Linked DNA regions of Homo sapiens. The protein of the gene in region 1 purifies or fractionates together with the protein of each later gene. This does not show direct contact. Each region holds a gene or a part of one and is shown on either strand. Other genes may lie near its edges.

Region 1 (5,721 bases):
CACTAACCACTATAATTATTTTTGGCTTTTTCAGCCACTGGAACTTTTTTTGGGGGGATTTAAATACAGGAAAACTGTTTAAGCAAAAAATGCACTGCTTTCATGTAAAATGATATAATCTTCTTTAACAAATATTTTCTTCATTGATAACTGACAGATATCTCATAGCATTAACATAAAATACCAGAAACAAACTTTATCTCCCTATTCTTACATTTAGTGCAAATTGGAATGCGTATGTGAATGTTAGAAGATGGACTTAATCTCTGACAACTTTATTAATTTCTCTAGCTACAGCAATGCTATTTAAAAGCCAGTTAGGTATGAATAGTACAGTAATAGTTTGGGTTCTCCCTTGATAAATGAATAAAAGGCTCAATTCTGATAAGTGATCAAATTTCTTGAAATTCTTTCAAATCAGCTGAAAATTTGGTTGGGGTGAATTGATGGTTTTTGAGAAGTAGGCCAGGTATCCTCACAAAGAAGTTTTAGAATAGGGTTTCTTTTAAGTTTTTAAATATCATCCTTTGTCTTTCCATATGGTTTTCATAACCAAATACATGACTATAGCATGGTTATTTTTCTAGTACTGCCATTTGTGATATAGCCACATCTTGGCGTGCAAGCTAGACATCTCAGGTAAATTTGTTTTTTTTTTTTTTTTTAGCCCTAGAGGTAACATTATAACTAAAATGCATTCCTGCAATTCTGTTTGCAGTGCTTCACTAAACATTGAAATAAAGTTGTAAATTTTTTCTTCAGTAATCCATTTTATAGTTAATCATACCAAATTTAAGTTGATGACCTAAAGTCCAGGTAGTGTTGAAGATAGTATGTATCTAGAATACTGGTAATGAGAAATTGTTGTAAATTGAAGAAAACAAGATGCTGCCATATATTAAGATAGAATATAATTAACTCCATGAGAATGGTTACTCAGGAACTAGTTAAAGAGCAAACCCATTTCTCCCGCTTCACTCTGTTTCAGATATTTTTATTGGAAAATGTTAGGGTAGAGGCCTGAGAAAGTTAGCAAATGCTATTGACTGATACTGGCTCTGTGTCTTCCAGTGATTTTTAGTTTGGTTTTTACAGTCAAGCCTACTGCTTGCAATTAAGATATCAATCTGAAATGCATCTGTAATTCCTGGCCACAGGTCCTTATTGCCATTATTTTTAAGTATCTTCATTGGAGATGAACACTGACTTTTGCATATGGTCTCTTACCTCAGGGAAGATCACTTGCTAGCAACTCATACTACTAATGACAGGTTTTTGAGAATTGTACTGACATCACATGTTAGCTACTAAATGCAAAATGTATAAAAGTATTGTTTTATGTAGTTACCTACCAATACTATCTGCTACTGAATAACTCTCTAAATATGTAGACCTCACTAATAACTAACCTTTAGGTAAAAAATTTACTTCTGTCATTAATTACACTTCAACTGGTCAATATAGTGGCAGCATAAAGTGTTTATTTCAGAATATCAATACAGTTTTGTCTTCATTTTTCAACAGTAATTTCAATTGGTTCATACTTAAAATACTACACAGATTTTGAGTTTTATGGTTCTCAAAGCAAGGTTTCCATCTTAAGATTTTTATAAACACAAAGCCTTTGCAAAATTGGATTAAATTCCACCTATCTTAATGTGAATTAAAAACCACCATTTATAATAATAATAGCGCCATATTCTAAGTTGAGTAAATGCATCCTACCATTCAAGGTTATCATATAATTTAACAAAATTGTACAACCTTAAGGCTCTTCACAGTATAAATTAATTTTTCAAACCAGAGCTGTTCACATGAAAATATTCCTTAGTAGAATGTATATTTAAGAAATAAAACAACAAAGGGGAACTATATCACCCATGTAAGTTATAGAGTTAATTACAAGTTCTACCATTCTTGATAATTCTTTGAGATGCTAAGTGTTTCAGTTCATATTTAATGATACTTAAATCGTGGGAATTTTAATGTTTGTTCCAAAATAGCAGAAATTGTAAAAATTATGAATTATTGGAGAAAATGCCATTACTTGTATATCTGACATTTAATTTTTTAATTATGGAGACTACATGCTTTTGTAGTATAATATTAATGATTATTCTCTTGTAAAAGAAAAGGAAAAATTAGTAAAGAAAAAAGTTTTAGTTGATGTTACCTGCTTGTGAGTATCAATTACTTAGTTTTTAAATTTTTAAGGTATTGCCTACTTTTCTTTAGAATGCAGAAATCTCGTCCTGAGCCCTTATTATGCCTGTGGTAGAGCAATGCAAGACTGAAAAGGTTGCCAGTATTTTCAGGCTTATTTGACTAAGAATTAGTGCCAAGAACTGGAAAGTCTACTTTTTGGAGGGAAATGATACTTAGAATTTGTAAACATAAGCAGTAATAGTGTAAATATTTAGAAAAATAGCAAGTGCTTTAACTGCTCAATAAAATAGTATAGATGTTATTTCACCCTTAAGGCACTGGCTGTTGCCCATTATTTTCCGATTTCGTGATTACTGTATATATTACATTTGAGTAATGAATAATTGGTAATAGTGTATTATAGTGTTCTACAGCACACCTTACTGTACAGTATTTGAAGTTTTCTTTTATATCAATAATAAAACTATAAGTTAATACTGATTTTCCCCTGAAATTCTCCACATTAGCTTTTAAAGGTAATTTTATGTTCTTTAGTTTCCTGGAATTATAATGCATGAACATATAGTTCAGTTTTATAAAGAAATTCTTAAATAATAAAGTTTTCTTGTTGAACTTAAGCGGGTTATCGTACAGGAATAGTGATTTTTCCCCTTAATGTAGATTTCATTGCTAGATGAAATGGACCCAGTGAAAAAAGAGTGCGCAATTTAAAAAAAAACCAAAACGGTCTCACTCTGCTGCCCATGCTGGATTGCCGTGGCATGATCAGGGCTCACTGCAGCCTCAACCTCCTGGGCTCAAGTGATCCTCCCACCTCAGCCTCCTGAATAGCTGGGACTACAGGCATGTGCCACCACACCTGGCTAATTTTTGTATTTTTTGTAGAGATAGGGTTTTGCCATGTTGCCCAGGCCGGTCTTGAACCCCTGAGCTCAAGTGATCTGCCCTCCTCTGCCTCTTTAAGTGCTGGGATTACAGGCGTGAGCCACCGCACCCTGCCAGCAAAATTTCTTTAGACATATTACATAATTGGGCCATAATGCTTACTGAATATTTAAAAATGAAGGCAAATTCTAACAGAGAACTTGATTTTGTGGTGGTTTAAAAAAATACTGGTTAGTGATAAGGAAATGAAAGGAAATACAGATAATAGTACTAAATAACGTTTGTGTAGCTTAGCAGTCAACACGTTTACTTCCAAGTTTTATTGTATATGCTTAATATACATTTTATTAGATCATTTAACTCAATAATTTAGAGTATAGCCTTAGACACCAGACTGCCTAGGTCTGACTCCTGGTACGCTGCTTTCTGTGACCTCTCTGTGCATTCCTCTCTGCGAGGATGATGATCACATCTGCTCCCAGGGTGGCTGTCTTAAATGAGTTAACACGTATCTGATGATTAGAAGAGTGCCTGACACATAGTAAACACTCAAATATTTGCTATGTTATATGTTAATGTAATGTGGTAGAGTTCAGTTGCCATTAAGTGGGATAAATCCTCACAGGGCACACATTATTTAAATAATTTGTTACATTAAAACTTATTTTACTTGTACATAATTGACTAAAAAATGGGGGGTTGTACATTCAAACATTTATGACCATGTGCAACACTGAGAATCTCAAACCGACAGTGTGCTCTGTGACCCAAGGCAAGTCTTGGAGCCTTTCAAGGCCTCAATTTCTTCTGTAACCTTGTGGTTTCACAATTGTCAACCTTTTGTTCTGCCGACCATTGTCGTCATAGTCTTACTTGCAGAGGGCATAGTGCTGATGGGACAAGTGACATGGGTATGAGCCCCATGTAAACTAAAACATAATTACCTTTCCTTTAGGTGTTGGCTACAGTTATCCCAAACTTGGACTTGAGGTCTTGTATATGCATGCCATTGGTCACATACCATCAGAATAGAATTCTCAAAAACTCTTTAGTAAATAAGATAAACATCCTACTTATAACAGCTCATTATGGATTTTATTTTTATTGTCTGGCTCTTTCAGACCCCAGCAACTGCAATTCTGACTTAATAATCAATTGTTTCTAATCATTAAAAATGTATATAGAAAAACTGAAGTAAGTCTTTAATTGATTTTCTGAACTGTATATGATACACTGAGGTGAAAAACATATGGGCTCTTCAAATTTGCACACTCTAGAAGTAAACCTGTCTTTGGCCCATTTGTCATACCACGTAAATTATTTGAGAAACAGATAAATTGTGTAGGAATCTGGGGGGATTATTCCTGTTTGTTCTATTTACAGAAACAGGTATAGTACAAAGTCTACCTATAAAGTGATGACATTTTTATATTTGATTTATGGAATCAGTATTTTATTTTTAATTTTCTTTTTTGAGACCGAGTCTCGCTCTGTTGCCCAGGCTGGAGTGCAGTGGCACCATCTTGGCTCACTGCAACCTCCGCCTCCCAGGTTCAAGCAATTCTCCTGCCTTAGCCTCCCGAGTAGCTGGGATTACAGGCACCCGCCACCATGCCCGGCTAATTTTTGTATTAGTAGAGACGGGGTCTCTACTAAATAGAGGGGTCATTCATTATTTTAAACAAGTACTGATAAAATGCCTGTTTTAAAAACTTGGGAAACAGTTCCAAATGAGAGAAATTCCATGCGTCCTTAGAGCTTACATCCCAATGATGGAGACAAGCACAAAACACATTGGTAATAGCTAACATTTAGTGACTCTTTCCCTTGTATCTGGGCAATAGGCTGAACACTACATGCAATAATTAACCGTCAAAAGCCTTTGTGGTTGGGTACTATCATTATCATCTTTTAGGAAACAAGTTGATATAGATTAGTTGGTTTACCTGAAGTCCTGGAGTTAGGTGGCAGAGTTGAGATTTAAATCCAGATGTTTAAGACTCCATAGTCTATGCTGTTAACTTTAATGCTACATTTGTAATTTAGCAAAGGAATAAAATTTGGTGGTCACATAAGTCTTTACAAACATTTATTGTTAAATCTAGCTTGTTTTTAGATACACCAACATGGTTTTAATTGATTTCAGTGTATAGAGTATCTGGCTTTTTTTTTTTTTTTTTAATACAGATGGTCTCTCTGCTGTGCAGGCTGGAGTGCCCAGTGGTGCCATCATAGCTCACTGCAATCTCAAACTCCTGGGCTCAAGTGATCCTGCTGCCTCAGCCTTCCAAATAGCTGGGACTACAGATGTATGTCACCTCACCTGGCTAATTTATTTTTTGTAGAGACGGGGTCTCCCTATGTTGCTCAGGCTAGTCTCAAGTCCCAGAAGTGCTGGGATTACAGGCATGAGCAACAGCTTTAATTTCACTTCCTACTAGTTCCCTTCCTGAACCCTAGTCCTCCATCTCAAGTTCTTCCTTCCTTGGATTTGTTTTCTTGCCTCCTCTAAATTTGGAGGTGCTTTAAGGAAGAGTTTCAGAATTTCTTAGATGACTAACCTGGGTACATTTGAGAATCACTGGTTAAAGTCCAGTTTTTCAAGGACCTAAAATAATTCTTGTTTACTAAGTGGGTCTGCTGCTTTGGAGGGGAGGTTTCCCAAAGGTG
Region 2 (5,132 bases), on another chromosome or scaffold:
CTGGGTTCGAGCAATTCTCCTGTCTCATCTCAGCCACCTGAGTAGCTGGGACTACAGGCATGTGCCACCACTTGCGGCTACTTTTGTATTTTTAGTAGAGACGAGGTTTCACCATGTTGGCCAGGCTGGTCTCGAACTCCTGACCTCAGGTGAGCCATCAGCCTCAGCCTCCCAAAGTGCTGGGATTATAGATGTGAGCCACCGCGCCTGGCCTAGACTTACTCTCTTGAGAGAGTTGTTTAGAATTAAAGTGTTCTCTGTTTACAATTCAATAAAGTTAATAAAAAAGATAGCTGAAGCTGGGTGTGGTAGCTCACACCTGTAATCCCAGCAATTTGGGAGGCTGAGGTGGGTGGATCACTTAAGTCCAGGAGTTTGAGACCAGACTGGGCAACATGGCAAAACCCCATCTCGACAAAAAATACAAAAATTAGCTGGGCATGGTGGCATGCACCTGTAGTCCCAGCTACCTGGGAGGCTGAAGTGGGAGGATCACTTGAGTCCGGGAGGCAGAAGTTGCAGTGAACAGTGACCGTGCCACTGCACTCTAGCCTAGGTGATAAAGCAAGACCTTGCCTCAAACAAAAAAAAAGCAAACCCTGAAAAGTCTACATGCATATTGAATGTTTAAAAACAAATAAAATGAATTAGATAAAGCAAATATCTTGAAAGATAAAACTGTGAAAAATTTTATACTAAGAAATGAGCCAACTTATTTGACATTGATAAATTATTTCCTAGAGAAAAGTGTAATTGAAGTTTGACTAAAGAAAAAAAAAAACAAACAGCCTAAATAATTGTATAGCCAGTCAAGTAATTCAATCAGAAAAATCTTAATCCAGGAAACACAGGCCCAGATGGTTATATATGCAAGTTCTTCCTCACACTCAAGCAATAAATTGCTCTTAGATATTCTAAAAATAGAGAAAGAACATATCCCCCAACTCATTCTCTGAGGTCGGCATAACCTTGATCACCAAAACCACACAAGGATAGGAGAAAGGTAAACTACAGATCATTGTCACTTGATACAGATACATAGATTGTAGATAAAATATTGACAAAAGAATCTGGTCATATATAAGGAAGATTCTATACGGCAGCTGAGTGTAATAAAGCTCCAGTAGTTAAGACACCATATGGCATTGGTTCTGGAGTAGACAAGTAGGCCAGTGGAAGAAAGCTTTATATACAAAGAATCTTGGTCCACCACTGAGGCAGCATTGATGTCACCAGGCAAAGGAGATACTGGGGTTGCGGAATCTGGGATATTGACTATTCCTAAGATGAAAAAACAAATTGAGTTCCTAACTCATACCATAGTCAAAAATAAATTGCAGATGAATGGGTAAATAATATGTGGTACACACATACAATGTAATATTATTCAACATTAAAAAGGAAGGGAATTCTGACACATGCTACCACATGGATGAACATTCTGCTCAGTGAAATAAACCAGATGCAGACAGACAAATACTACATTCCGCTTACATGAGTACTTAGAGTAGTCAAACTCATGGGAGACAGAAAGTAGAATCACCTGGACACCGTGGTTCACACCTGGCATCCCAGCACTTTGGGAGGCCAAGGTTGGAGGATTGTTTGAGCCCAGGAGTTTGAGAGTAGCCTGGGTAACATAGTGTGATCCTGTCACTACAAAAAATTAATGAAAAAATTTTAAAATTAGCTGGGCGTAGTGGCATGTGCCTAGTTACAGCTATTCAGGAGGCTGAGGCGGGAGGATCAGTTGAGTCTGCAGTGAGCCAGGGTCAAGGCACTGCACTCCAGCCTGGGGGACTGAGCAAGACCCTGCCTCAAGGGAAAAAAAAAAAAAAAAAGAATGGTGGTTGCCAGGGCCTCGAGGAAGCAGGAATCAAAAGTGAATGTTTAGAAACGTATAGTAATTTGGCATTGTCATAACCTCCACACACATGGCCACAGAACCAGTACTTGTCTTGGTGAGCTCTGGGCGTCTGGTGTGTGTTGTGTCTTGCTTCTGTGCAGGAGGACCACATGGCAGTCCAGCAGACTGCACATTTTTAAAAACTAGGTCTTCCCAGGTAGTTTGAGGAGCACCAACCTAGAAAATTGGTCCCATAGTTTAAAAAAAAAGTATTTAATATTATGCCAATACATAAAAGTAAATGGAAAATGTCACAGGAATATTTATCCTTACTAAATGCAATAGTACTTCTAGGGTACTGTCTTCCAATTCTTTCCTTTTCAGTTCTGCTTGCAGCCCTGTTGGTTTTATGACCCACTGATTATTTGTGGCCTTTTGAAAACATGAAAACGGTAGAGAAGCATGAGCCAAGCCCTAGGAGACATGTTTGAATGTTTATAGTAGTGTCATTAACACAGCAAAATGATTGGAAACAGGCCGGATGCTCAGTGGATAAGTGGTAGTATATCCACACAATGACAGATCCTTTTTTTATTCCTTATCTATTCAATAATTATGACACTTTTAAAAGTAGATTTGGCCCTGCTTAGGTTTTTTTTTTAAATGGTGGGACTATCCAGACTTTTTAAAATGGTTGTAAAAGCAAGACATACTGGCCGGGCATGGTGGCCCATGCCTGTAATCCCAGCACTTTGGGAGGCTGAGGCGGGTGGATCACAACGTCAGGAGTTCAAGACCAGCCTGGCCAACATAGTGAAACACCATCTCTACTAAAAACACAAAAATTAGCTGGGTGTGGTGGCACGCACCTGTAGTCCCAGTTACTTGGGAGGCTGAGGCAAGAGAATCGCTGGAACCCGGGAGGCGGAGGTTGCAGTGAGCCAAGACCATACCATTGCACTCCAGCTTGGGTGCCAGAGCGAGCCTCCATCTCGAAAAAAAAAAAAAAAAAAAAGCAAGACAGACTTTAGATAAAAGCAAAGAACCTGAAATGATGCAGGAAAAAGTAGATAGGGCCACTTTTAATTTCTATGCTTCTGGAGTTTGTTTGTTTGCTTGTTTGTTTGTTTGTTTTTGACACAGAGTCTCGCTCTGTTGCCCAGGCTGGAGTGCAGTGGCCCGATCTCAGCTTACTGCAAGCTCCACCTCCTGGGTTCACACCATTCTCCTGCCTCAGCCTCCCGAATAGCTGGGACTACAGGCACCTGCCACCACTCCCAGCTAATTTTTTGTATTTTTTAGTAGAGACGGGTCTTCACCATGTTAGCAAGGATGGTCTCATTTGCCTGACCTCGTGATCTGCCCTCCTCGGCCTCCCAAAGTGCTGGGATTACAGGCGTGAGCCACCACGCACGGCCCTGCTTCTGGACATTTTTTATGTGCCTTTTTTACATAGGTGAGGTCATCTTAGACACAAGCAACATGACTGGTTTTACAATTATTTTCCTGTTGGCTGCGTAGCATACCATTGTATAACTGTAAATTTACATATGAAGAAATATAATTCAGCTGCATTTTGAGTATACAGACAGTCCCTGACCATGGTTCTACCTAGAATTTTTCAACTTTATTATGATGCAAACATGATACACATTCAGTAAAAACCATACTTTGAATACCTATACAACCATTCTGTTTTTGATCTTCAGTACAGTATTCAATAAATTACATGAGTTATTCAACATTTTATTATAAAATAAGCTTTATAGTAGATGATTTTGCCCAACTGTAGGCTAATGTATGTGTTCTGAGAATGGTTAAGGCAGGCTGCACTATGATGTTTGGTAGGTTAGGAATATTAATACATTTTTAACTTATAAGTTTATGGGACTTGGTTCCATCATAAGTCAAGGAGCATCTGTACAGTGGTATTAGTGACGTTGGTATGAGCATTCTTAGAATTTTCTCATTGGGTATAGCTAGTTATTTACTTAGAATAAATTTCGAAGGCCGAGTGCGGTGGCTTATGTCTGTAATCCCAGTTCTTTGTGTGGCCGAGGTGGGCGGATCACCTGAGGTCAGGAGTTCGAGACCAGCCTGGCCAACATGGTGAAACCCCATCTCTACAACAATACAAAAATTAGCCAGGTGTAGTGGCACATGCCTATAGTCCCAGCTACTAGGGAGGCTGAGGCAGGAGAAGTGCTTGAACCCTGGAGGCGGAGGTTGCAGTGAGCCAAGATCGCACCACTGCACTCCAGCCTGGGCGATAGAGCGAGATTCTGTCTAAAAATAAATAAATAAAATAAATAGTAAAGTTCCAGAAGTGAACTTTCCAGGTTAAAGGTTGTTAGTGTCTTTTGCAGTTAGCTGTATAACTACCTTGTCTAATTTGAACCATATCTGGGGAACAGCATCTCTTCAGCGATGGGCACAGGGCAGCCTGTCCCTTATGGCAGTGTTGTCACAGCAAGAAGTGCAGCTGTAGGTTGTGTCATGGGCATGAATGCTGTGTCATTCGCAGGAGCCAGTAGAGCCACAGTAACATGGACAGCGACAGCTCCAGTGCTGCCAGGAAACCATCCAACTGATTTCTGTGTTTGCCCCACAGATCTACGAACTGCGTGTGATGGAGACCAAACCCGACAAGGCAGTGTCCATCATTGAGTGTGACATGAACGTGAGTGGCTCTGTCCAGTTACAGTGAGCCTGGGCCCTGGGAGGATGGGCAGTTGGTGACCACTGCAGGCCAGGGTGTCAGGAGGGCATCAAACAGCCCCTGGGACTCTGGGTAAAGAGGAGGAAGATGCTGTCAGAACATCATGAGGAGACTGTGACCTTGTGATCTATCTCAGGGCCAGTTGGGGCAACAGAGTTTGCTGCCAGTGCTGCCATGGTTAGCTCTGACCCGTTGAGGAGTGAATATTCTTTTTTTTTTTGAGACTTAGTTTCACTCCTGTTGCCCAGGCTGGAGTGCAGTGGTGCGATCTTGGCTCACTACAACCTCCACCTCCCAGGTTCAAGCGATTCTCCTGCCTCAGCCTCCCGAGTAGCTGGGATTACAGGCATGTGCCACCAGGCCCGGCTAGTTTTGTATTTTGGTAGAGACAGGGTTTTACCATGTTGGCCAAGCTGGTCTCAAACTCCTGACCTCAGGTAATCCACCCGCCTCGGCCTCCCAAAGTGCTGAGATTACAGGTGTGGGCCACCGCGCCTGGCCGAGGAGTGAATATGCTTAAGAGCTAAGGAAGCGTACTGAACCTTCTGAGTAGGAATGAAGTGCTGA

Evidence for each region.
Region 2: the proteins of VCPIP1 (region 1) and UFD1 purify together in Homo sapiens (affinity purification with mass spectrometry; 2 studies listed by BioGRID and IntAct, with this or other methods). This does not show direct contact.

The regions. Positions count from the first base shown.
Region 1 is NC_000008.11:66,627,011-66,632,731, reverse strand, and holds the end of VCPIP1 (deubiquitinating protein VCPIP1), read left to right. Parts: 3' UTR 1-4,245; downstream 4,246-5,721. UniProt on the Homo sapiens protein: Deubiquitinating enzyme involved in DNA repair and reassembly of the Golgi apparatus and the endoplasmic reticulum following mitosis. Necessary for VCP-mediated reassembly of Golgi stacks after mitosis.
Region 2 is NC_000022.11:19,457,465-19,462,596, reverse strand, and holds part of UFD1 (ubiquitin recognition factor in ER-associated degradation protein 1), read left to right. Parts: intron 1-4,457; coding exon 4,458-4,526; intron 4,527-5,132. UniProt on the Homo sapiens protein: Essential component of the ubiquitin-dependent proteolytic pathway which degrades ubiquitin fusion proteins.